3 separate regions of the Homo sapiens genome follow, and regions 1 and 2 are each linked to region 3. Evidence: fine-mapped expression QTL. A gene starts in region 3. Each other region holds a variant in brackets. All regions are shown on one strand. Distances are from middle to middle.

What was found.
Region 1: its variant is fine-mapped to the expression of SLC25A24 in cerebellum (GTEx, PIP 0.98).
Region 2: its variant is fine-mapped to the expression of SLC25A24 in lymphoblastoid cells (TwinsUK, PIP 0.95).

The regions. Positions count from the first base shown.
Region 1 is chr1:108,229,572-108,237,754 of GRCh38, forward strand. It overlaps NBPF4 (NBPF member 4), which reads right to left. Exons shown (of 15, transcript NM_001143989.3): 7 at 7,716-7,767; 8 at 6,699-6,838; 9 at 5,665-5,716; 10 at 4,671-4,840; 11 at 3,589-3,640; 12 at 2,685-2,857. Among named protein-coding and RNA genes, the nearest start is that of NBPF4, 10 kb to the right of the region's middle. The variant T/C (reference allele first, on the strand shown) is at 4,247.
Region 2 is chr1:108,150,146-108,158,328 of GRCh38, forward strand. It overlaps SLC25A24 (solute carrier family 25 member 24), which reads right to left. Exons shown (of 10, transcript NM_013386.5): 5 at 7,317-7,475; 6 at 4,838-4,990. Among named protein-coding and RNA genes, the nearest start is that of SLC25A24, 46 kb to the right of the region's middle. The variant A/AT (reference allele first, on the strand shown) is at 3,928.
Region 3 is chr1:108,195,697-108,203,879 of GRCh38, forward strand. It overlaps SLC25A24 (solute carrier family 25 member 24), which reads right to left and starts at 4,647. Exons shown (of 10, transcript NM_013386.5): 1 at 4,260-4,647. The coding sequence starts at 4,442. RefSeq lists a silencer at 4,431-4,770 and an enhancer at 4,571-4,865.

The DNA.
Region 1 (8,183 bases), 34 kb after region 3:
AAGAACCACGAAAAAGGGGGCTGGGATGCTACAGACCAAACGCTAAGTGAGGCAAACTTTTCTGGGTTCGGGGACATTTTGAATTTCCCATTGACTATAATGGTTTGACCCCCTACCCACACATATCCATCCTCTTGCCATATAGTGGGTGTCAGCAGACATAGGCAATGTAGGAGAGGGACCAGTCCCTTCCTGCAAATTCAGGGGCCACAAGTGCTACAGATCAGCATGTGCGGTTCCTTAGGAAGGCAACACAGGACACGATCCTCACATTACCCACTCCTCCAGTGGGGTTCGGGTGGCACCCCTTAAACAAATTGTTTCCATTTCCACAGGGAGAGGAATACACGTTCTGAGTGGACTAAGAAAAGACTTCCAATGACCTCACGCCAGTCCAGGTCGGTCTCAAGATGGGGACGGGGCCTGCAGACTGGATCCACGTTGCTGTGGGGCTCCTCTCTCTCCTCCCCTCTCCACATCTTCATTCTCTCCAAGGTTTTCTAAGTTTTCTTAAAAATGCCTCATTGTTCTCAGCTCCAACATGGAGATGCCACTGCCCACTTGGGCGTGTCCCTTGATCCCTGAATGGTTTATAGCAGGACAGAGCTTGCTTGCAAAGGGGCAGGGCATACAGCAGGTGCAAGGTCAGTGTGTATTCTAATTGTTTCATGAATCACTGTGATGCTAGAAAAGCATTTGCTTTTTTGAAACTCAGGGAGAAATGCAAAATGGGAAAGGGGCTGGTCCCAGTATGAAAGGCACTTGCAAGGTCAGTGTGTATCCTAATTGTTTCATGAATCACTGTGATGCTAGAAAAGCATTTGCTTTTTTGAAACTCAGGGAGAAATGCAAAATGGGAAAGGGGCTGGTCCCAGTATGAAAGGCACTTACCAAAATAGAATAGAGGCCAACATTTTTGTTGCTAGTTTCTTTCTTTGTGTGTGTGTGACACAGGGTCTCACTTTGTTGCTCAGGCTGGAGTGCAGTGGTGCAATCATGGCTCACTGCAGCCTCAACTAACCAGGCTCAGGTGATCCTTCCACCTCAGCCTCCCAAAAAGCTGGGACTACAGGTGTGTACCCCCATACTCTGCTAATTTTTTTTTACAGATACGGTTTCACCATGTTACCCACACTGGTCTCAAACTCCTGAGCTCATGCGATCCACCTCCTTAGCCTCCCAAAGTGCTGGAATTACAGGCATGAATCAACACACCTGGCATTTTTGCTAATCTCGTTACAACATAATCCAATATACTGGGGGACATCACAGAGTTCCTTGCTCTTACTAGAAGATAATGTAATGGGTAAAACCCCCAACAATCCACATGAAATTCCCAGAATTGAAGTAAAAAAAAAAGAGAATGAGCAAGAAGAAATGAAAATTGGATTTTCTTTTTACACATCCTGTGAAGCTGCTATCTCAAGGGGCGATTGCTCAGAGGAAGGGTTTTCTGGACCTCATGGGGACAGGAACCACTCTGCTTTGCTCATCGGTTAGGCCAGAGCCTCATGAGGGACACTAGTTGTCGATGGTTTTCATGAGAATAGAGCACTGAGACCAAAACTTGATTGACACTACAAACCCACACATGGAGAAAACCACTGGAGCTCTGCAGAGGATGCAAGCCCGGCCACACATAAAGGAAGGGTCGCTGGACTGCGTCAGTGGAGGGAAGACACCTCAGAGGAAGTAGAGCCGCAGTCCCAAATCTTTTTGGCACCCGGGACTGGTTTCATGGAAGACCATTTTTCAGGCACCAGGTTGGGGGGGATGGTTTTGGGATGATTCAAGCACATTCCATTTACTGTGCACTTCATTTCTATAAACATTATATTGGAATATATAATGAAATAATTATACAACTCACCATAATGCAGAATCAGTGGGAGCCCTAAGATTGTTTTCTTGCAACTAGATGGTCTCACCTGGGGGTGACAGTTACTGGGAGACAGTGACAGATCATCAGGCATTAGATTCTCGTAAGGAAAACACAATCTAGATTGCTGGCATGCACAATTCACAATAGAGTTCGAGCTCCTGTGAGAATCTAATGCCACTGCTGATCTGACAGGAGGTGGGATCCAGGCTGAAATGCTCTCCCACCGCTCACCTCCTGCTCTGCGGCCCAGTTCCTAACAGGTCATGGACCCATAATGGCCCATGGCCCCAGGGCTGGGGATCCCTGAAGAAGAGAATCTAGCTTGGGACACAGGAATCATGAAACAGGCCTCCAAATAATTGGGCAAAACTCCCAACATATGTGGATGGCCAGAGAAGAGATAAAGACATGGAATTAGCAAGATAATTTCAGAAAAGAGAGATGCCCTATCTTAAAGAAGGAGGGCTGTTACATAAATTTCTCCAGCTGAGCTACTGTGGCCAGGAATTTGCCATAAGCCCTCACCACTCCCTTCTCTGGCCTGTTTTGATAGCCAAAGCCTGCTCCTGTGAGAAGGAGCCAGGTGACAGAGGAGGCACTTGGAACAGGAGAAGAGGAAGTTCTACCCAGTGGATGTCTGTGCTTAAAACTGGATCCAAGAGCCAGATTCAAAACAAGCTCAGTGTATAGAGCCTGCTGCAGAGATGGTCTGTCTCAGCTGCACAAGTTGCAGGAAACAAAACATACAGAGGCTGCCTGGGAGGACAGTGGAGCTTTGTGATCTCCAGGGTGAAGTACTCACAGGCTACATCCAGAGCAGAGCAGGCAAGCTGATCCTCCAATGAGGACAAGGTGCTGCTATAAGGCTGGTGGCAGTCAGACACGTCATGGTGAACTGAGGGAGTCAAGTAAACTTCATTCACAGAGTCCTCTGGGACTTCCTGCTCCTTCACCTCTGGCAGCTCCTGGCTGAGCCTGGGGTAAAGAAGACAGAAGATAAACACCAGAGAGAACCAACACCCAGCTGGTTCTATAGGGAGGCCCTTAGGAAGGCCCAGAGGAAGCAAAGTACATTCCCCTGAGAGAGATACAACCATCCTTCCCTGTCTCGAGTAGGAGACAGAGCACGACAGGCTCTCAGTGCACTGGGCAGGCAATGAGCTGGGGAGGAAGCAGATGGAGTGATCCCTGCGGGGAACTGCCAGGACACAGTGCATTCGGCACTTTTGCATCCATTTTGTTGAAATTAGCGTCAGTGGCCAAATGAATACAGGCTCTTGAGTCTTCACAGAGTTCCTGTATCCTCAACAGCTCTTGTTCTCAACATTGTAGCATGGCATGATTTATTTTCATTCACTTCCCTGCTATCGAATACTTGCAAACATGGTAATGCCAAAGAGGCAGACATCAGATGTGCAACTCAACTTCACTTTAAGCAAAAAGGACAGAAAAGGGGACTGCAGAAAATGTCTGTGAGTGATCAGTTCAACAGAGTCAACTGAATGCAGATTAGACGAATTGAAAGGAATTAATAAGGAGGAACTAGAAATACAGGTGTACAATGAAAAGAGTCAACCTTATGAATATGGCATTTCATGGTTGGCTGAACAGATGGAACAGGTATATTCAGCACACTCTGATTTTCCCTGCATCTGAGACTCCAGATATCAACACTGAATTAACTGTTCAGGATTCCTCAGAGTTACCTGGGGCATGGTGGGCTTTGGTCTTCTATCTCCTCTTGATCCTTTTTAATTTCTGTAAATAAATTCACAAAGGGACAGACAGATTAAGCAGGTTCTCCTACACACATAAACAATCCACTGTGCAATCCTAACATAGAAATGTCAGTTTCCTCAGTGGGAGAACAGGACACTGTGAGAGAAATATTCCAGGAGGCCTGAGGTCCTGTCATGAGAGAGATGCCTTGGTTTTCTTCCCTGGGCCTAGGAATGCAATCTCCCTGTTCTGGTAGATCATTATCCCAACATCATCTGTCCTGATTTTGTGCAAACAGTTATGCAAATTTTTCACACCAGTTGAAGGCAAATACCCCAGCTGCTTTCTAGAAGGAAAACTGCAATATTCAGCTTTCAATCATCAAATACTCACGTTGTTCATGGTTACAAGGATTTTAGACACTGAAACTAGAATGTAGGAGGGAATCTACAGACCCTTGAATGAAAATGAATCTTTGGTTCAATACAAAGAGACATTGGCTATTCGTGACATCTAGGAGTGACAAGGCCCAATCTTGTTTCTAGAAACATAACAAAAGGTAATGGACTGCTCAGCTAAAACAGGATAACATCAAAGACATAGAGAATGAGGCTAGGTTCTTTGAAACCTGGGTAATATCTTTAA[T/C]GAAAAGTAGACAAAAATGCCACAGGCGTTGGGCAGGCATAGAATCTCACAGGACATGGTTGGGGAAAGGAACTTGTAAGGAACACGATAGCTGGCAAGACAAATCTTATTCAGATTAAGAGGCCTGACAGACACCTGTTGGGCACGTGCTGCATAGGTTGGTGTGAATTTGTCAATGTCGTGACAGTGGGCGCAGGGTGACACAGGCATGGTCTGAGATGAGGAAGAGAGCAAAGCTCACTGACCCACCCCTGTCTGTGCTTCCAACTTGATTTTTGATGCTGATGCAAATCATCCTGTGTCTGTGAGTCACGCCCACACCAATGACACATCTCAGTCCAGCCAGGGATGTGAAGTGCAAGGATTACGGAGTCTACCTGGGACACCAATTGGAGATTTATCATGTTCACAATGGAGTACTCACTGTCTACAAGAGCCAAGCTGACTTGCTTGTCTTCAAAAGAGTACAAAGTGCTCCAATAAGGGTGGTAGGAGGGAGTCAGGTCAGGAAGGATGGAAGGAGTCAAGCAACATCCATCCAGTGACTCCTGGGGGATTTCATGCTTGTCCACTCTCAGCGGTCCCCTGCTGAGCCTGTAGGGTAAGAAGGACTAAAGATTAATCCAAGGAGTTTCAGAGCCCTAGCTGGATTTCACGTGAGGCATGAGGGAGTGATCGCAGAAAACAAATGGGTCAACCCATTAAACAGTTAAATATTCTCCTCTTCTTGGTGGGCACAGTGTGGTTGCCATGGGTAGGTTGCAATACAGAGAGAGGGAAAGAGAGAGATGAGAGAGAGAGAAGCATCAGGTGCTCAGCAAAGTAGCCAGATTATGATTTTCTGAGGAAGGAGACTGAGTCTCTCTGTATGGTAGAGTCGTGACTTACTGAATATCATGTCCTATAACAGTGGTTTCATTCCTTTCTTTTAAATGATGTTAAATTTTATGTGTAGTGGCCAAGTAAACATAGGTTTTGAGGCATAATCGTATCCCCGAAATCGCATGGCATCAAGTCCTCTTTCTCTCAATATTGTGCATGGTATAACAATAATTTTTTTCTACCTAATTTCCTTGCCTTGAAATGCTCACCACTGTGCTAATGCAAAACCAGCAGAAAGCAGATATGCATCTCAGGCTGGTTGACACCATAAGAAGAGTATACTTACTTTAAGGAAATCTGTGTGACTGATTAGTTGTTCACAAGGTCAAGTGGTTTGATGTACTGAACTTAAGAAGTTAATAAGAAATGCAAACATTAAAAGTTTCACAATGAAAATGTAAAACATGGTTAAAAAAGATCATTTCCGGTTGGCTGAAGGGATGAATTAGGTATATTCAGGACTTTCTGGTTTTCTGTGGAGATGAGTTTCACAGATATCACCCCTGAATAGACAGCCCCTGATTTTTCTCAATTACCTGGGAGCAACTGTTTCTTGTCCTTTCACCTCTTCAAGATCACTTTGCTTTTCTGTAAATAAATTAAGAGAAGACCAGCCAGGTGAACCTGATCACATTCACACATGCACAACCTTGTGTCCAAATCTACATAGGGGCATAAATACACGCAGTGCGAGAACAGGCTATTGTGAGAGAAACTTTCCAGGAGGTCTCAGGGTGAGCCTTGTGAGAAGTCACTAGGTTTGCTTTCCTGAGTCATGGAGCAAATCTCCCTGATCTGACAGGTCATCATCACAGTCCCTTCTGTCTTGAGTCACAGCAAACTGTTAACCATATCCTGTTTACTAACAGATCCTGGGGATCTACTTTAATGCTTCTTAGCAGGTTACTGCAGTATTCAGCATGTTTCCTTCTGATAAGCTGTTGTCAGTGTTTTTGTAGAATTTGCATTTAGAGGGACAGATTAAATCAAAAGAATCTCTAATGCTACATGGAAACATTGGCCTTTCATATGGCAGGGAGTTCCAGGGCCCGGCCTCCTTTCAGAGAAACATACAAAATTTAATAGTGGTGTTCATGTTCTGGTACTCAGAGACTTCTTAGCTAAGACAAGCCTACTAAAAGGGGAGGGAGTCTAGCCTGAGAGAAGTGAACGAGGGAAATGACAGCTCCAAGAATATCGATAAGGCTGCCAGTGGCCTTGGACAGGCAGAGAAACTCAGGTTGTTTGGGAGGGAAAATTAGATTTCATGTGAGATGACAGATTAAATCTAAATCAGGAGGACTGGTAGATACACCCTGCACCCAGGCTGCAGAGGTGGGTATGAATTTGTCAGGTCAACCTTGGGTACAGTGATCTGCCAATGGGGCAATGATGAAAGACAATGTGTGGTTTTGGACTAGAATGGAGCACAACTCTGACTTATAGGATGCCTTCCTTCAAACTCAATCCTAGAGCCTGGTTCTAACCAGTATATAAGCATAGAGTCTTCCTGAAGGTATGACATCCGTCACTATGGACAAATCTGGGGTACAAACAATAGGGAGCCTACCGAGGAAGCCAAGTGAGGTTTCATCCCATTTGGGATTGGAGTAATCCCTGGCAACATCCTGAGCGGAGCAAACTTTCTGTTCATCCAATGCCAAGAAAGAGACTTCACGATGCCGGTAAGAGTTGGACTTGTCATGGTGTCTAGAATGAGACAAAACACATTTCTCTGGCAAGTCCTGCAGGACTCCCTTCTCTTCAGAATCCTGCAGCTTTCTGATGAGCCAGGTAGGATAGAACGACAGAAGGTTAGACCAAGACAGATTCAACACCATAGTATCTCAGGTGATTTGATAGGACACAAAGGGTGTGGTCACAGAAAGCAAAGGAGGGTCTCCTCCAAGAGAGAAAAATCTATCCTTCTAAATGTGGGGTGGAGTGTGACTGTCCTGGAGACAGAGCAAACATGAGCAGCAGGTGCTCAGTGCACTTGCCACAAACGAGCGGCTGCAGGAGGACCCAGACTCTCCCTGTAAGCTAGCATCAAGCATCATGACTTGCAGCACTGAGAACTAAGCTGGGACTTCACTTCCTTTACACAAATTGCGTTGACATTACATGCAGCATCCAAGTGAACACAGCTCTTGAGGCATTCCCAACGCACAGATCCTGTGTTTTTAAGGTCCCCCTTTTTTTTCAATATTTTGACATAATATGAAATTTTTATTTTTAATTTTCTCGATTGCATTCAAATACTTGCCAACATGCTGTCACAAAACATACAGAAAGCATATATGCATCTCACCCTGGATTAGCCACATGGGAGACCACAGGTGAGATCAGGAAATCCCTGAGGTTGGTCAGTTCACCTGGTTCAAGTGATTGTCGGTTCCTATGCTTGAGAGGGATTAAGAAATTGAAACCTATTCAAGTACCACAATAAAGAAGACAACATTGTTAAAGGGGCAATTTGCACTTGGATGAATGGATGAGACAGTTCTATTCGTCACTTCCTATTTTCCCTTGATCCGTGGTGTCCAGATGTCACTATTGAACTAACAGCCCACAAATCCACAGTTACCTGGGGGGCACTGGCGCTTTCCCCTCCTCCTCCTCATGGTCATTTTGATTTTCTGTAAACAAATTCAGAAGAGCAGGTCACAGTAAGGAAATCACACAAGAGCAAATAAGTGTCCAGTCATAGCACAAGAACATAAATATCCTCAGTGTAAGAATGTGACATTTTGACAGGATCATTCTGACTTATTTTCAGAAGTAGATGTGCCTGCTTTCCAGACCCATAGGACAAAATCTCCCTCATCTGGTAGATCATAATCACCTATCCTCTGACCTAAGTCTGTGCAAACAATTAAACAAAACTTTTTCCCCAAGATTTTCAAAAATTGCCCTAACCACTCTCCAGAAGTGTTGTTGCAATACTGATTTATCTCATCATATATCATGGTCAACGAATGGTTAGAGAAATTTGTATAGGAGACTGAACTGATGGATAAATTCTAACAATCCTTGCATAAAAAAGAGTCTGCGG
Region 2 (8,183 bases), 46 kb before region 3:
CCTTTTATACCTTGGACCCCCACAGCACCTATCAAAAGTACAGAGTAAACGTTTAGTGACTGATGGAGGATAAATATTTAAAGGATAAGTGCTTGAGGCTCCTATTCCCCGAAACATACCATATACAAAGGGAAGACTTCAGGACAGAGCCAAAAAGTCAGGCACTGTGCCTGGTATGTAAAACTATGTCACCAAGCTTAGTCCCCATCTTAGAGATGAGGTAATAGTCACAGAGACTTTAAGTAACTTGCCAAGGCTACAGAACTGAACCTTCCTAAAGGAGACTTAACTGAGCCCTCAAAACCACCCTGAAATCCTTTTGTCTATCTCAGTTCTCTCCCATTTGTTAGACTAACCATTTTGATCTTCTCCATTCTCCTCCAGCTTCCAATACCACTTCCTCCCTCATTCTCAGATCACATCCTTTCTCAGGAGCTCAAGGAAGAGTAGAGAGGCCACCAGGCAGAATATCTTGGTATTCTGCCCACCTCCTGCAAAATTATCCATAGCTACTCACATATTTTTTCTTCCCAAACACGTATAAGAAGAGTTCTTCTTGTAATCAAAGACTAATCCTTTTAACAGTCTCTGGATAGAACCTGTCTCCCCCAGCCCCTTTCCATCTCCCACTCCCTTTCCCTACACACAAACTCCCTTGAAACACCTACCGGGTTAATCAACCTCTCTTACCTATGTTTTCAACTTCTTTATTTGTATTGACATGCTTCCTTCAGCAACAGGCACATTAAAGTCAAATCAAAATCCTCCCTCCAGGCCAGGCACGGTGGCTCACTCCTGCAATCCCAGCATTTCGGGAGGCTGAGGCAGGAGGACCACTTGAGGTCAGGAGTTTGAAACCAGCCTGGCCAATACGGTGAAACCTCACCTCTACTAAAAATACAAAAATTAGCTGGGTGTTGTGGTGCACTCCTGTAATCCTAACTACTCAGGAGGTTGAGGCAGAAGAATCACTTGAACCTAGGAGGCAGAGGTTGCAGTGAGATGAGATTGCACCACTTTACTCCAGCCTGGGTGATAAAGTGAGACTCCATCTCAAAAACAAACAAACATACAAACAGAAAAAAAACAAAAAAACAAAAAAACAAATCCCCTCCACCCAACATCTTTCTTATCTATCACCCTCTCCCTCTTCTAGTTTCCTTCTCTTCACTGTCAAACTCCCTAAAAATGTGTCTCTACTGTCCAAGTTTCTTCACCTCCCATTCACTTTAAGCTCATTTCAGCATGGTTTCTCATTTCATTACTTCACAGAAGCATTTATACTAAGCTTACCTATCTCTGGGTTGAGAAATCCTAAAAGATATTCTTATTATATTCACTACCCAGTAGTACTGACCCCCATGAAACCGTTTCCTTCCACTGACTCCTATGCCATCCCTCTCTCTGGATTTTCTCCCATCCCTCGAGCTATTTCTTCTCAGTGTCCTTTGCAAGTTTCTTCTTTTACTTCTCCCTTTGGACTTATTCCTAGAATTCTTCTCATTTATAAGCTCTTCTTGAGTGATCCTGCCCATTCCAATGGCTCAACTCAGCAACAACCTCTCTATCAAAGATCTCTCTCTTAATGGCTAGCTGATATACCCAATTGCTTACTGGACAGCTCCCTGTACATGTCCCACACATCTCAAACTCAGCATGCACAAAATGGAACCTGATATTGTATTCTCTTTGAATGCAGTCACTCAAGTTAGAAATTAGAATATCATTCTTGACTCTTCTCTTTCTCACCTCCATATCCAGTCAGTCAGTGAGTTCTGTTGATTCTACTTCCAAAATATTTCTCAGTTCATTCCCTTCTCCATTCCTTAAAGACATCACCTTATACTGGTGTTCATCATTTCTTACCTCAATTATTTAAATATTCTCCCTGCCTCTAGTCTACCTCACTCTCCCCCAACAATGTCTCCACTCTTTTTTCAGGTTGATATTCCTTAAATGTGAATGTACTCATTTCACTTCCCTATATAAGATGCTACAATAGCCCCTACCATATTCAGAATAAAATCCAGACTCCTATTACATTTGGCCCCTGTTTATCTGTCCAGCTCTTTCATCATTATCTTTCCGGAAACACACTCCACCAGTCTTGAGGCACAGTGAACCACCTTCAGTCTCTTCAGTGAGTGATGCCTTCTTGTGCCTACATTTCTGTCCACATGCTGCTCCTTCTGTTTCCAATCCTTATCTTCCCCTTTATTTATTTATTTATTTTTTTTTTGAGACAAGGTCTCATTCTATCACCCAGGCTAGATTGCAATGGTGTGATCCCAGCTCACTGCAACCTCTGCCTCTCGAGCTCAAGTGATCCTCCCACCTCAGCATCCTGAGTACAGGCACACACCCCCACGCCCAACTAATTTTTATATTTTTTGTAGAAATGGGGTTTTGCCACGTTGCCCAGGCTGGTCTTGAACTCCTGGGCTCAAGCAAACTACCTCCTAAAGTGCTGGGATTAGAGGCGTGAGCCACCACGCCCGGCTCCCCTTCATCTTAATGGCTTGAGATTGAGGCAAGCTTGAGCTCTAATTCCAGTCTGTCAGTTCTGTCTTTTCATTTACTTAATAAGGGTTTCCTGGCACTGGGCAAGGTGCTAAGAATACAAGTAGCTACTGCCTAAGGAAGCTCACAGTCTCACAAAGCAGATAAGTACAGAGAACGTCAGAATTCAATGTGAAAGTGCTGTAACAAAAGGAAACTAGAACAGAAGGCTTCCCAGAGGAACTAACTCCTGAGTAAGTACTAAAGGGCATTTCCCACCATATGACATATAGAAAGAGGAAGGGTGTCTGTCTGTGTTGCTGGAGCAGGGTCAGGAGACAGGGAGTAGCAGAAAGATGACCATGCATGGTGGCCATATTGAGTGGGAGGCACTCCTGGGTCATGCAAGCAGAGATGCTGAAACACACAGTACACAGGTAGACCTACAGTGTTGAGATAAAGAGGAAGATGTTGGAGTGGAAAGCAGTCAGTACAGAGATGGCAGCTGAAACCACAAGAACACTACCCCACACTATTACACTGTCAATGATACAATGACACTACTATGGTAATGACAACCCACAGAGAACACAGGTTTACCCCATACTGATGATGTGTTTGACAGAGCTACATACCAGGTTGAAAAGATCTTTTTCTTAGTTTCCTAAAGTACTAGCTATTCAAGGAACAAAATCTATCTGAATCTAAAAGTGACCTAGTTACATACTCTGGGAAATTTGAGAATATATACAGCCTATTTACCCCGAAGTAATTTACAATCCACTGGGAAAACAATGGGTTTTCCATCATCCAATGAAAAATGGGATATTCTGCAATTCAGCACTCGAGGGAGGCTGGACAGGGGAGGAACTGGCTTTGATTGAGATGCTTAGTATATGCTTGTCACAGGAAGGTGGCTTTTAGAGAGCCCCGAGGGATGAATGGACCTTCAGCAGGAGGAGAGAAAACAGCACCATAGGTCCAGAGCCCATAAGAACACTACACCACACTGTGTAGACAGCTTTCTCTTCATGTCTAAGAAAGTTAGTGTGCAGAAATCACAATACTATAAAGAGGTCTCAGGAAGGAGCTTGGGTGGACAGAAGCAGAGGATGCCTGTTGGTGGTATCCAAGGTAAGAATCTGACAAATGGCATAAAGCAAAATGTGCATATTTGCTTGCAATACCCATGGACTTTTTCAAAAATACCAAACTTCTTGCATACTGAAATAACTGCATTGAGTATTTATTTATTTTAGGCTGTGGCTTTCCTATCATAAAATCCAAGTATGTGGTCAGAATAACCTAAGGGTATCTCAAACATTAGCCCTTAATAATCATGATTTGAATCTTCAAACCTTCATATAAGGAAAATAGCCTTCCCAAGGATAGGTTCTAATTAAAATCCTGGAGACTAGATTTTCTTTA[A/AT]TTTTTTTTTTTTTTTTGCTTCTCTATTTCCTAGGCAAAGAAAAGGATACCACTGGACTTCGTAAACTTCTCAAGAGTATTCTCTTGCTCAAGAACAAAACACTCTCCAGAATAATCTAAAATCTACATGGAATAATACAAAAACTATGGGGGGGGAGTTGAATTTCAAGGCCCTTACAGTCCTTGATAAACAATGATGGAATAAATAATGGAAAACATAATCTGTGGCTGCTCAACTAGACAGTTCTGCTAATGACCATAAAGAGAACCCAAACTCTAAAACTTACCTCTGTATTTCCCCTTTACATTGAGTTAGGCTGAAGCAATAGCTCAAATAATCCAAGTTAACAAAAGCCGACAGAGAAGTGATTCAGAGGTAAATGCATTTGTTCATTCATTGACTCATTCAACACTCGCTTGAAACTTATCACATGCCAAGCTCTGTCTAGGTGCTGGAGTACATGGGGAAGAAGCCACGCCCCTGCCTTCATGGAGGTGTCACTCCAAACTCAGCTCAATTTTACAGCAACGTCAAATTACACAAAGGACTTCAACTTATAGTTTTCCTTCCAGAGGTTAGATTGTGACACTTTCATAAAACTTATGTTAGTGTGCTGCTTCTGCTCAGGATTCAGAATGAATAAACTAAAATTCTACCCTTCCTTTAAGAACTACTTAGAAAAAAAAAACTTTATAAATAATATGATGAATTAAGAATCCCATAACTTGGTCATGAGAAATCTCTGATTTTATTTAGTCTAATCTCCTATAAGTGATCCTCCTTATGGAGTATATGTGAAAGATTATCATGTATTAAAACAAGAATCCCAAAAGCATTATACATTAACATTTATTGAATCCGTTTACTAACTCCTCTTTGTTAATAAATTCCACGGGTGATAACAATTACCTGTTCATATGCCCAGAATTTAACAGCTGTCTCAGGAGCAATTTTGATGACGTTTGTACCATTTCCCCTCCAAAGCGAGCGGATACCTCCTTCTTTTACCATCTGTCGAAAGCCACCAAATATGTTCATTTTGTCTGATTTTGAACCGTGAACCTAAAAATAAAAGCAGAATGATATAAAATGCTGGTGGCATATTACTATTACTTTTTCTAGAACAACCACACAATCTTTTTCAATACCCTTTCTAACTGCAAGAAGATATATTTGAAAATAAAATATAGAAAGGTTGAAAAATATATATAATGATGAGAGGGAGTATTGCCATGATTTTAGAGGCCTGTCTCTGACTCTAAAACTAAGAATAATTGGTATCTTCAGTGTGAGAAAGCAGAGAGAGAAGACAAGAAGAGTATTAAAATTATGAACAACCTTCATAAGATAATATTAACTAAATTATGTATCAGGCAATGGAACACCCTTTGAAACATGAACAGGCTCAGTTAAAGGGAAATAAAAAAGTATACTGCAGATAATAATATTATATTATTACATATAATTTAATGTATGTATATTATTACATATAATTTAAAGTAATATGTTACTCCCTCTCCTCAAGAAGTAGTACAGACATGAACTGTAAATGGGTCTGAAATGGTTTGGATATTGTGTATATCAGGGCTACCAACACTGGAATGCATACAGCCTGAAACCAAAAATAAAAATTGCACCCTCTTTGGCATATTTTGAGGCCCTCTCTAGGCAATAAATTCATTACAACATGTACCCATCCTGTGAGTACTGATAAATTACTTGGCTTATACTACAGATGTGGTAGTCACTTAAAAATACTGTACCTTATGACCACCTACAGATAAAAACTGATTAAGTCCAATACACCAAAAATAATTAAACAAATCAGCTATTCTTCTGATTGTTTCAGCTCACATAAAAGGGGTGACTACCACTAAACACACACACACACACACACACACACACACACACTCACAGAACGGGTTGAATTCTGAAGGCCAGCCATGTGGCCAGTATGAAAACGGGCCCCAATAAGAACTCTGCACACCAAAGGCTCAGGTGAGCTTCCCTGGTTGGTCTGCAATATTCCATGCCTAGTGCCACATAACAGTGCCAGGAAAGTAAGACATGGAGACTCCACAGGGAGAGGACAACAGAAGCTCTGCCCTATGTGCTTCTTTACTTGACTGATTTTCATCCGCATCTTTTCCCCGTAATAAACCATAACCAGGGGTAATAAGCTTTCAGTGAGTTATGTGAGTCTTTCTAGAGAAGTATCAAACCTGAAGGTTGACTTTGGAAACTCCTCAAATTTGCAGAAACTAAATTCCAGAGAAATCCATTTTATTTTAAATAAATAAACTTCACAATAAAATAGGACAAAGGAAAAAATAAATGCTTATTCAAGTTCTCTAAAAGTCAAGTTACTACTGTTCCTAAAGAAAAACACACACCAATCCCCTCTCCTTTTTCTTTAAAGCATTAGCTTTGCCCCTAAATAAATTTTGAGATTTGGGTACATTCTGAAGGAATGCTGGCTTAAAACAGTGTCAGAATCTTTTTGTACAGAAATCTACAGACAAATATAAAAAGTGTTGACCATAAGTATAACAAAGTTTTAAAAATATTTTGTAAACAACTACTATGTTCCAATAGGTTATTCCAGTGTACCAGACATTATCACATACCTGATATTGCTTGATTCTTAAACCATTCTTATTAGATATTCTTATCCCCATCCCAGAATGAAGGAAAATGAGACCTCAGAGGTTTCATGCAGCATGAGAACCAGGAGCACTGGAGGCAAAGATACTGCATTCCCCCTCTCATTTGTTGTAAAGGAAAAGTCAATTCTCTGGGCCTCAGATTCCCCCTGGAAAAATGATAAAATACCTACTTCACTGGGCTGCTGCAAGGATTAACTGGGTTACCACAGTGAGCAAATACATATTAATTCTTTTCCATTCCCTCTTTCCACTCTGGCCAGCCCAATGCTACACTGCTAGTAAATAGCAAAGTCAGTCTATAAAGCCAGATCTTTTTCTGCTAACCTCAGCTTTAGAATAATTTTCAAAATTACATTGCTGCTCTAAGATTCTAGATTTCAAAAATACTTTACTTTTGATAAAGTATATTAAAAAGAAGGAAACTATAAATCAGGAGAATCCTACAACAATAGCTAGAGATATTTTTTGAATTAAATGTTTGAATAGTCATAGAATGCCAAAGATTAAAAGTTCATTACACACATGTACTAACAATTTAAGGTTTGGTACACTGCCATACTTACATGGACTGAATTTAGAGTTAACAGCAACAAAATAGATTTATTTTTTAGGGTATAAAAGATTATTACTGAGAAATTTTAAAACTTCTTTTTCAAAGCACCACATTTCTCATTGTTTTAGAATATTTAGGGCAAACCTGGACACACGATAATAAAGCTCACCTGCATCATGATTTTCAGACGGTCCAAAGGGGCAGTGCTTGTTCGAGAGACAGCACCAGCAATGCCTCCTGCCAAAAGCTGCCTCCACCATTGTCCGGATTTTTTTTCGTCTTCCGTGAATTCATCTGGAATAGTTAAGCTATCCCCTATGTCAATTCCCTGTAAAAATGAAAAAAAGATCCCCATGCGCCTTAGTTAAAAATAATCCCAGAAGACGTTTTGTTTTAGAGAAGAATCATGTTATTTTACAGTTAATATGAACTTCATTCCCTAGAATTTATACTAAACCAATTTGAGTACATAGATTATAAGTTGTCTACTCACAATGAACAAAGTACAGTATCAGTTCACAAGAAATGAAAATAAACAGTAATTACAAATATACAAAACCAACAGTTACAACTTTCTTTCATTCATCATAGATTCACAGTATGTTTTCTCTTGGTCTAGGTTAAAATGAAAGGGCAGCATTTTATCATAGTCAATCTTTTTTATTGCAACCATTTTTCATAAGGCTAGAAAACCAACTGGTGATGACATCTTTTAAGAAATTCGTTCATCAATTCTTAAACAATACTTCCTTTATCTCAAATTTATATCCACATCATATTTATACCATGATATGTTTTAAATATGTAAATAAAAATTAAAACTGTATGTGAATACCCCTAAACTCATTTCCTACTGTTTATAAAAATATTTTTATAAATCTGACTTATCATTTAAAACATGCAATAGATTCTATATAAAATTTAGCTAATGGAGAGGTATTGTTTCAAATCATCACCCCTTCAACCTATTCTACATTACTATAGTTTGAGAGAAACAATTCTATAATAATATTTTTACAATTCTATTATCTAAATT
Region 3 (8,183 bases):
ATTAAAATATTAAGGAAATGGGCTGGCCATGGTAGCTCATGCCTGTAATCTTAGCACTTTCAGAGGCAGAGGCAGGCAGATCACTAGAGGCCAGGAATTCAAGACCAGCCTGACCAAAATGGCAAAATCCCATCTCTACTAGAAAATACAAAAGTTAACCAGGTGTGGTGGCATGTGCCTGTAATCTCAGCTGCTTGGGAGGCTGAGGCACAAGAATCGCTTGAATCCAGGAAGCAGAGGCTGCAGTGAGCCGAGATCGCACCACTGCACTCCAGCCTTGGTGATAGAGCAAGATTCTGTCTCCAGAAAAAAAAAAAAAAAGCAATATTAATGAAATAAAAATGAAATGAACCCTCTTTGTTAACAGAGGAATTACTTAATGGAGTGAAATCCTGATTCCACTCAATGCAATAAACATTTGCTAAGCTACTATTCTTCTATGTGACTATTTTTTCTGTGATTGTAAATGTAAAAACTTAAAGACAGAATTAAAAAAATCATAGAATGTAAGAGTTAGAATGGCCCTTAAATCAGGTTACCAGTCCACCCACTCCTCTAACATTGGGTGATCATTCAGCATACACTTCATACCCATGGGCACAGAGGTTCCTCAAGAAGTTCACCAGCTAGTAAATGGGATACCACATTTTAAAGGGTTTTTTAACATGAACTTTCATATTCTGCAACATATGACCTTGTTAAAAGCTCTGTCCAGGATGCAGGCAAGATATCTGCATTTTAAGAATAAGAAAGTAAAGCTCCAGTAAGGCTCAAACTTGACAAGGATTACACGGTCAATTTACACCAAGGACGGAACTCTCTTGTAGCTTGCTGCTTCCCTTCTTGCTCTTGATAATTGTCCTAGTCCAACTGGGCTGCTATGACAAAAATACTATTGGCTTACTTAAAAAATAAGCATTGATTTCTTGCAGTTCCAGACACTGGAAGTCCTAGATCGAAGTGCTAGGAGATTTACTGTCTAGTGAGGACCCACTTTCCGGTTCCATGGACCACTGTTTTCTCACTGTGTCCTCACATGGTGGAAGGGGCAAGGAAGGTCTTCCAGGTCACTTTTATACAAGCACTAATCCCATTCATGAAGGCTCCACAGGAAGAAAGAAGATGGGGGTAGAAGGAGGAAGACAAGAGGGAGAAGGAGGTGCGTAAAGAGAAAATAACTGAAGACTTTTAAAAGGAAATAGGATTACTAGACAAGTATAAGAGAATTAGTAATGGTTAAATACTGTATCTCCTTGTTCTCACACTACATTCTACTCTCAGTCTATACCCTTATACTACTGAGTCCTAGGAGAACTTAATGTGAATTTTCTCTAATTTTTAACTTTAATTTTTCACTAATTTCATAGTGAGGAGATTTGGAACATACAGAAAAGAAAGGTCATACCAGAAAAAAAAATGTAGCGCTTTCACTTCCAATTGGTTCTTAATTTTGTCTCAGGACTTGCCTTGAATTCTTTTCTCTTCCCTGGATAATTCTGGAACACTTAGTAATGGTTAGCTATTATATTCCTTATACCTATTTCTACATTCTACTCTTATTTCTACATTCTTTCCATCTAAAATCTAAAGAAACTTAAACAGAAATTTGTTCTCTTCTAAATGCTCAATTCATTACAAATGCTTGGAAACACGGAGATGAGATCAAATCAGATGAAAATTTATAGAGATTTTGCTTCAAGCTGAGTATTTGGCTTAGATACAAACTACTACCTTGAAACTTTCCACCGAAGAGTCACCCCACAGTTCTCATTTCTATGCTCAAGTAGCCAATGTCCTCACTCCTTGACATTACATAAACCCCTGACATGCCTCTGAAATTTTCTCCCATAAAGGTTGACTGTGTAATCCTAATTCTATCCCATGTGTGATGGTTAATTTTATGTATCAACTCGTCTGGACTAAGGGATGCCCAGATAACTGGTAAAACATGATTTCTGGGTGTGTCTGTGAGGATGTCTCTGGAGGAGGGTAGCATTTGAATCAGTAAACCAATTAAAGAAGACTGCCCTCACCAAATGGGTAGGCATAATGCAATCCTGTGGAGGATGTGAATAGAACCAAAAGGCAAAGCAAGTGCTACGTTTTGTTTGTCCCCACAAAAACTCATGTTGAAGTCTGATCCCTGATGTGGCCGTGTTGGGAGGAGGGACCTAGCAGGAGGTGTCAGGGTTACGGAGGCAGATCCCTCATGAATGGCTTGGTGTCATTCTTGCAGTAGTGAGTGAGTTCTCTCTCTCATGAGACTGAATTAGTTCCCTCAGTAATGGATCAGTTCCCTCGAGGCTGGGTTGCTATAAAGCCAGGACACCCCTCGGATTTTGCTTCTTCACACATGTCCACTTCCACTTTGACTTTCCACCATGTTGTGACACAGCAGGAAAGCCCTCCCCAGGAGTCCAGCAGATGCCAGCACCACGCTTCTTAAACTTCCCAGCCTGCGGAACTGTGAGCTAAATAAATGTCTTTTCTTTATAAATTACCCTGTCTCAGATATTCCACTATAGCAACACTAAATGGACTAAGACAGGAAATGAAAAGGAATTTCACCTGCAGAATAGGAGACTTTACAAAGACTGATACCCTGAATGAGCGAGGATGTGGAGAAGCAAGCACTGTCAGTCAAAAGAGTGAAAATGGGTCTAAGGTTTCCGAAAGGCAATACGTATCCCAGTTTAAAATGTGTGTTACCTTCAGACTCAGCAATGTCCACTCCTCAAAATTTATCTTACGAAAGTAACTGGACCAGAATGAGAAAATGAATACAAAGGACATCCATTGCAATTTCACTTACAATCGTTTTTAAACTATCAATAAAGTAAAAGGTGATTTAAAAAGAATTGGTAACATATACTATGACACAAACATATAACAGAATATGATGCAGTTACGTAAAAATGGTGATACAGCAGCAATTCTCAAGCTTTTTGATCTCAGGATCCCTTTACAATCTTAAAAATCATTGAGCACTCCAAAGAGCTTTTGTATATTGTAGGGACCATGGAGTTGTACCACTGAGATCTCCCTTCAAAGGCACCTACTGTGAGGAACACAGTTGACTTCCACTCTCTAGCCTCTAACCCTGGCATCTGCTGATGCACTGCAGCAAGGTCGTCCCTTTCCTGGGCTGCTTCCAGCCAATGATTGGACATGGTGGGGAACTCCAACTGGGCCATTTCTGGGACAATCAGCACAAAGTACCAAAAGTTGGTTCCTTCAAAGTATGAATAAAATACACAAAACTTTGGCAAGATTGAAGGGGAGAAAAGGATAGATATGAGGAATGAAATAGAGAACCTACCTACAGATTCAGTCAGAAGTGTTATAAAATCATCGGTGAGTATTATGAACCTTGGACAGAACAGGCAGTTTCAAAAAAAATTGTAACTTACTAAATCTGACTCTAGAAGAAACAGTAAACTGAAGAGGCCTATAACTACCAAAGACATTAAAAGAGAAGTGAAATATAACTATATAACAGTTGTTGGCCCTCATAGTAACCTAATCACTTTCCCTCTTTGGATAAGAGAATGCCAGTGTCAGGGAACGCTTCAACAGGGTTGGAGAAGTTCCACATATCTCCACCCTACTAAAGGGGCAGAAGTTCAGGGGCACAGTTAAGATGACTCAGAGAAAATGAAATTGCTCAGTCGCAGGTCAAGTCAACCCTTCAGATCAATTTATGTACCTAGGGCATTAACCTAGGAATGTCTTAAACAATGGAATGCCGCCATTCCTTCTCAACAGGAAGTGGGGGAAACACGCGATTGGTTTTCAAACAGTTTTCAAACAGTAGACAATACACATAGCTGCTGTAACAAAGCAGCTTCGAAAGAGATCGAATGTGTGCGCCTTTATACAAAACTTGGGACCCACTGAAGTCTGACAGCTAAAACGGATTACATGTCTGCAAGGTATTAAAACAGAAAACAAAGAACCTGGGATGGATTCAGGACAAAAGTGTCTTAAAAATTTAACAGTGCCCGTGGGCCAGAGTGTCCACAACACTCATTTTATCTGGACAAATACCAGTAGACTTTCGTATTATGACCCACTTCTGTTACCGGGGTCGCCGGTCGCGGCCCCACGCCCGAGTTTCTGAAGCCACCGGAGCGCTGGGCGCCACAGTTCCTCCTTCCTCTCCTGGCAACGCCTCAAGCCGCCGCCCTCCTCGGTCCTCGCAGTGTCCCCAGCGCCCGCAGCCCTCCCTACGCTCAGGCGGCGCCCCGGCGGCGACCCACCTCCTCGGCGTCCTGGCCCAGAGGGATGCCCAGGTTCCTGAGCCCCTCCTGCAGCTCGCCGATGTCCACCACTCCGTCCCCATTGCGGTCCAGTGCCTGGAAGAGGGTCTCGTAGCGCGTCGGCTGCTCCGCGTCCTGGCAGGCCGCGGTGGGCAGCACGAAGTCCCGCAGCCAGCGCAACATGGTCCCAGAGGCGCAGGCGGCCTGGCCGAGGAAGTCACGGGAGATCGAGGGCTGCGGGGCGAGACCGGGACCAGCGCGAGGCCGGGCTGGGCGGGGCGCGCGGCGCAACAGCGTTTGGGGCGCCGTCGGGGTTGCGGCTGCGGCGCGCAGGGCGCAGGGCGCAGGAGCGGAGACCCCACCCGAGCCCGCGCGGAGCGCAGGGTGTGGCCGTCCCGCCGCTGCTGGGGAGGAGCTCGCCGCGCTGGCCTCGGCGGCACTGGCCGGGCCCGCCTCCAGAGAGCCGGAAGTGAGGGAGCTGGGAGCTGGGTCTCGGGAGGTGCTGTGCGGACCCGGGGTCGACCTCTGCCCAGTTGCCAGTCCCGCTGTCAGCATGCGGGTCCGAGGAAGAGGCCCCCAGCAGGTCCAGGGCTGCAGCGTCAGCGCGTCGGTGGCTTGGGAGCGGGGTCTTGAAGACTGGTTACTCCACTTAAAGACCCTCTCGGGCCGGAGCCTTGGCGGTCAGCCCAGAGCTGCTTCTCTCTGCCTGGAAACTGGGCCATGGAGGGCATTGTCTCTCACGGATGTCTAATTTTTTCGTGGTTGCACACCTGGGATGGCGATTCTGCTTTAAAAAGCAGAGAGTTAAATCCTAAAGCATCTATTGGAGCAATTATAAAACAAAAAGGAGAAACTCCTGGATTTGTTGCAGAAAAGATCAACAGCCATCTGCGTGGGCAACGGGGAAAAGAAGGACTAGTTTGGTAGGCAGCTTAGCTAGGATTTGCCCGTGATTAAGCGTATAGAGTGTCTGCCAGCTGCACTTATCAGAAAAAACCACAGCGCCCTCCTCCTTCTCAAGATGGGTGCAGTTCCGAGGTTTGGAGCTTATTACTCAGGCAAGACAGAACTTATTACTGCCTAGCATGGAATAACGGAAGGAACATTGGACTTAACAGAGAAAGTACCTAATCCTTCAGGTGTGACATAGCGTCTCCGGGTAGTCTCTCATCAGTAAAATGAGAATATAAATATCTGCCTTCACAACAAAGTTGTATATTAGGTGTGAAAGGTCTTAATTCTCTAAGGCGCCAATCAAATGAGATATCATTAATTGTAATAATCCTGTTCATTCACAGCTGCGTAAGAGGAACTATTGTTGTACTGCTGTTTGCAGAAAAGAAGATACCTCTGTACTTGTAAATTAGGGTGTCTCACATCTTCTGAATCACTACACAGAAATCAGTTCCAACAACAGCCAGGAACTCAGACCCTGAACTTACCTCTCCTCATATCATTTTGTATGTTTAAGATATGTATGAATCTAGAATTTGTAAATTAAGGGCTGCCTGCTTAGTAAAATCATCTTGAAACTGATTTATCTTTTTATATTACTTCCAACTTCCAGTCTTATTAAGAATCATTGCCTTCCTTTGGAACTGCCTTCAAACTTCAAATTTTCTCTGTCCTTGAAAACCTCTTTTAATCTCTACTCTGAATACTCTGTACTTGAAGAGAGGTTGCTTGAACTAGTCATCTTACACTTACATGCTTTCATTTTACTTTTTATTTATTTCTTTTTTTTTTTTTTTTTTCTTTGAGACAGTCTAGCTCTGTCGCCCAGGCTGGAATGCAGTGGCACAATCTCAACTCACTGCAACCTCCGCCTCCTGGGTTCAAGCTATTCTCCTGCCTCAGCCTCCTGAGTAGCTGGGGCTACAGGCTATTTTACTTTTTTAAAAAAGTAATACTTAGAAAAATTACCTGTCAGCGTTTTTGCTGAGAAAATTATCTTCACACCAAAACTTTTACTTGAGGGTTTATAGCAGTTCTATTCATAACTGTCAAGCGCAGAAACAAAATGTTCTTTAACGGGTGAACTGGTAAACAACCTGTGTTGCATTCATACAGTGAGATAGTAATTAGCAATAAAAAGGAATGAATTACTGATACCTGTCAACAATGACATTCTGGAAAAGGCAAAACTATAGGGACAGAAAACAAATCAGTAGTTACCAGTTGTGACTAGCGGGAAGGGAATTGATGACAAAAGAGCATCAGAAGGCTTGTGGGGGTGATGGAGCTATTTTACATCTTGCTTTTGGTGGTAGTGGTTACACAACTGCATGTGTGTGCCAGCAGAACTGCACACTAACATGGGTTAATTTACTCTGGGATATCAATAAATCTGACTTAAGCATGAGTAAAATGGAATAAAAATTCTCAAAAGATCAGTGTGAACATCAAAACAGTTTATGAATAGTTATGAAGTATGGGCCACACACCAGCAGCATTGGTGTCACATCAGTGTTACTGTGAAAATCAAAGCGTTTATGAAGTGTGGGCCACAGACCAGCAGCATCAGTGTCACTTGGGAGCTTGTCAGAAATAATCTCAGGCCTGCCCAAGCCCACTAAGTAAGAATTGCACTTATACAAGAACCCTGGATGAGCATTTCATAAAGTTTGAAAAGCACAGCTAGTATGAAGCAAACCACTCGAAGTGCAACCTGTTACCTGTCTGCAATGAGTCAGACATTGAGAGGAAGGATTTAGAAACTTTATAGCAATTTGATAAAGTAATTTTGTTATATCTAATAATAAAACTCAGAGCTTGTCTTTTTAATTTCAATTTTCTAGTATTGCATTTTTACTGTATTTTACGACACTATGTCTGCAAGGAATCGAGATAACACCATGAAGATAAAAGGTGTAATTAACACTAGCAACTTCCTGCATAAGAGAAGAAACCTTTACATGGACATTTACACATCTGGACGAAAGAAGGCACCCCTGCTTAATTCTACTGGCAATTCCCAAAGACCAGTGGTTCCTAGAGGGCAGTAGTAGAAACCCAGAATTCACACTTCCTTAATTCATTTCCTTGGTCAGAACAGAAGTCTAGGGTTCAGCCCAATTTAGCTACTTCTATTGTCCCCAACTTCTGGCCTTCTAATGTACTACCATTTTCCACTGGAATAACCTTCAGACTTGACCAGTTTCAGTCCTTGAAGACCTCTTTCAGCACCTACTTTGGAATCTTTTCATAATCATTCTGGATTTGGCTAGTTTTAGTTGATAAACACATTTCTTCTTTCTATCCACTGAATCACTTACTTATTGTGTAGTGCTAATAAGACCAAAGAATCTGCCTCTCCACAAGGAACAATTCTATTTCAAAATCCTTCAAGAATATTCAGAAAGGAAAAAAAGATCCTGGTCATTGCTCCCTCAAATTTGAGTAATCACAGCTTAGGCTCTGTAAGAGAATTTGATTGGTTCAGTGTAAAGCCATAACCATTACTGGAAGGATAATTTTTTTTCATTGTACTTTAAGTTCTGGGATACATGTGCAGAATGTGCAGGTTTGTTACATAGGTATAAATGTGCCATGGTGGTTTGCTGCACCCATCAACCCATCACCTACATTAGGTATGTCTCCTAATGCTATCCCTCCCCTCCCCACTCCCTCCCCTCCCCACCCCCAACAGGCCCCGGCATGTGATGTTCTCCTCCCTGTGTCCATGTGTTCTCATTGTTCAACTCCCACTTATGACTGAGAACATGCGGTGTTTGGTTTTCTGTTCCTGTGTTAGTTTGCTGAGAATGATGGCTTTCAGCATCATCCATGTCACTACAAAGGACATGAACTCATCCTTTTTTATGGCTGCATACTATTCCATGGTATATATGTGCCACATTTTCTTTATCCATTCTATCACTGATGGGCATTTGGGTTGGGTCCAAGTCTTTGCTGTTGTGAATA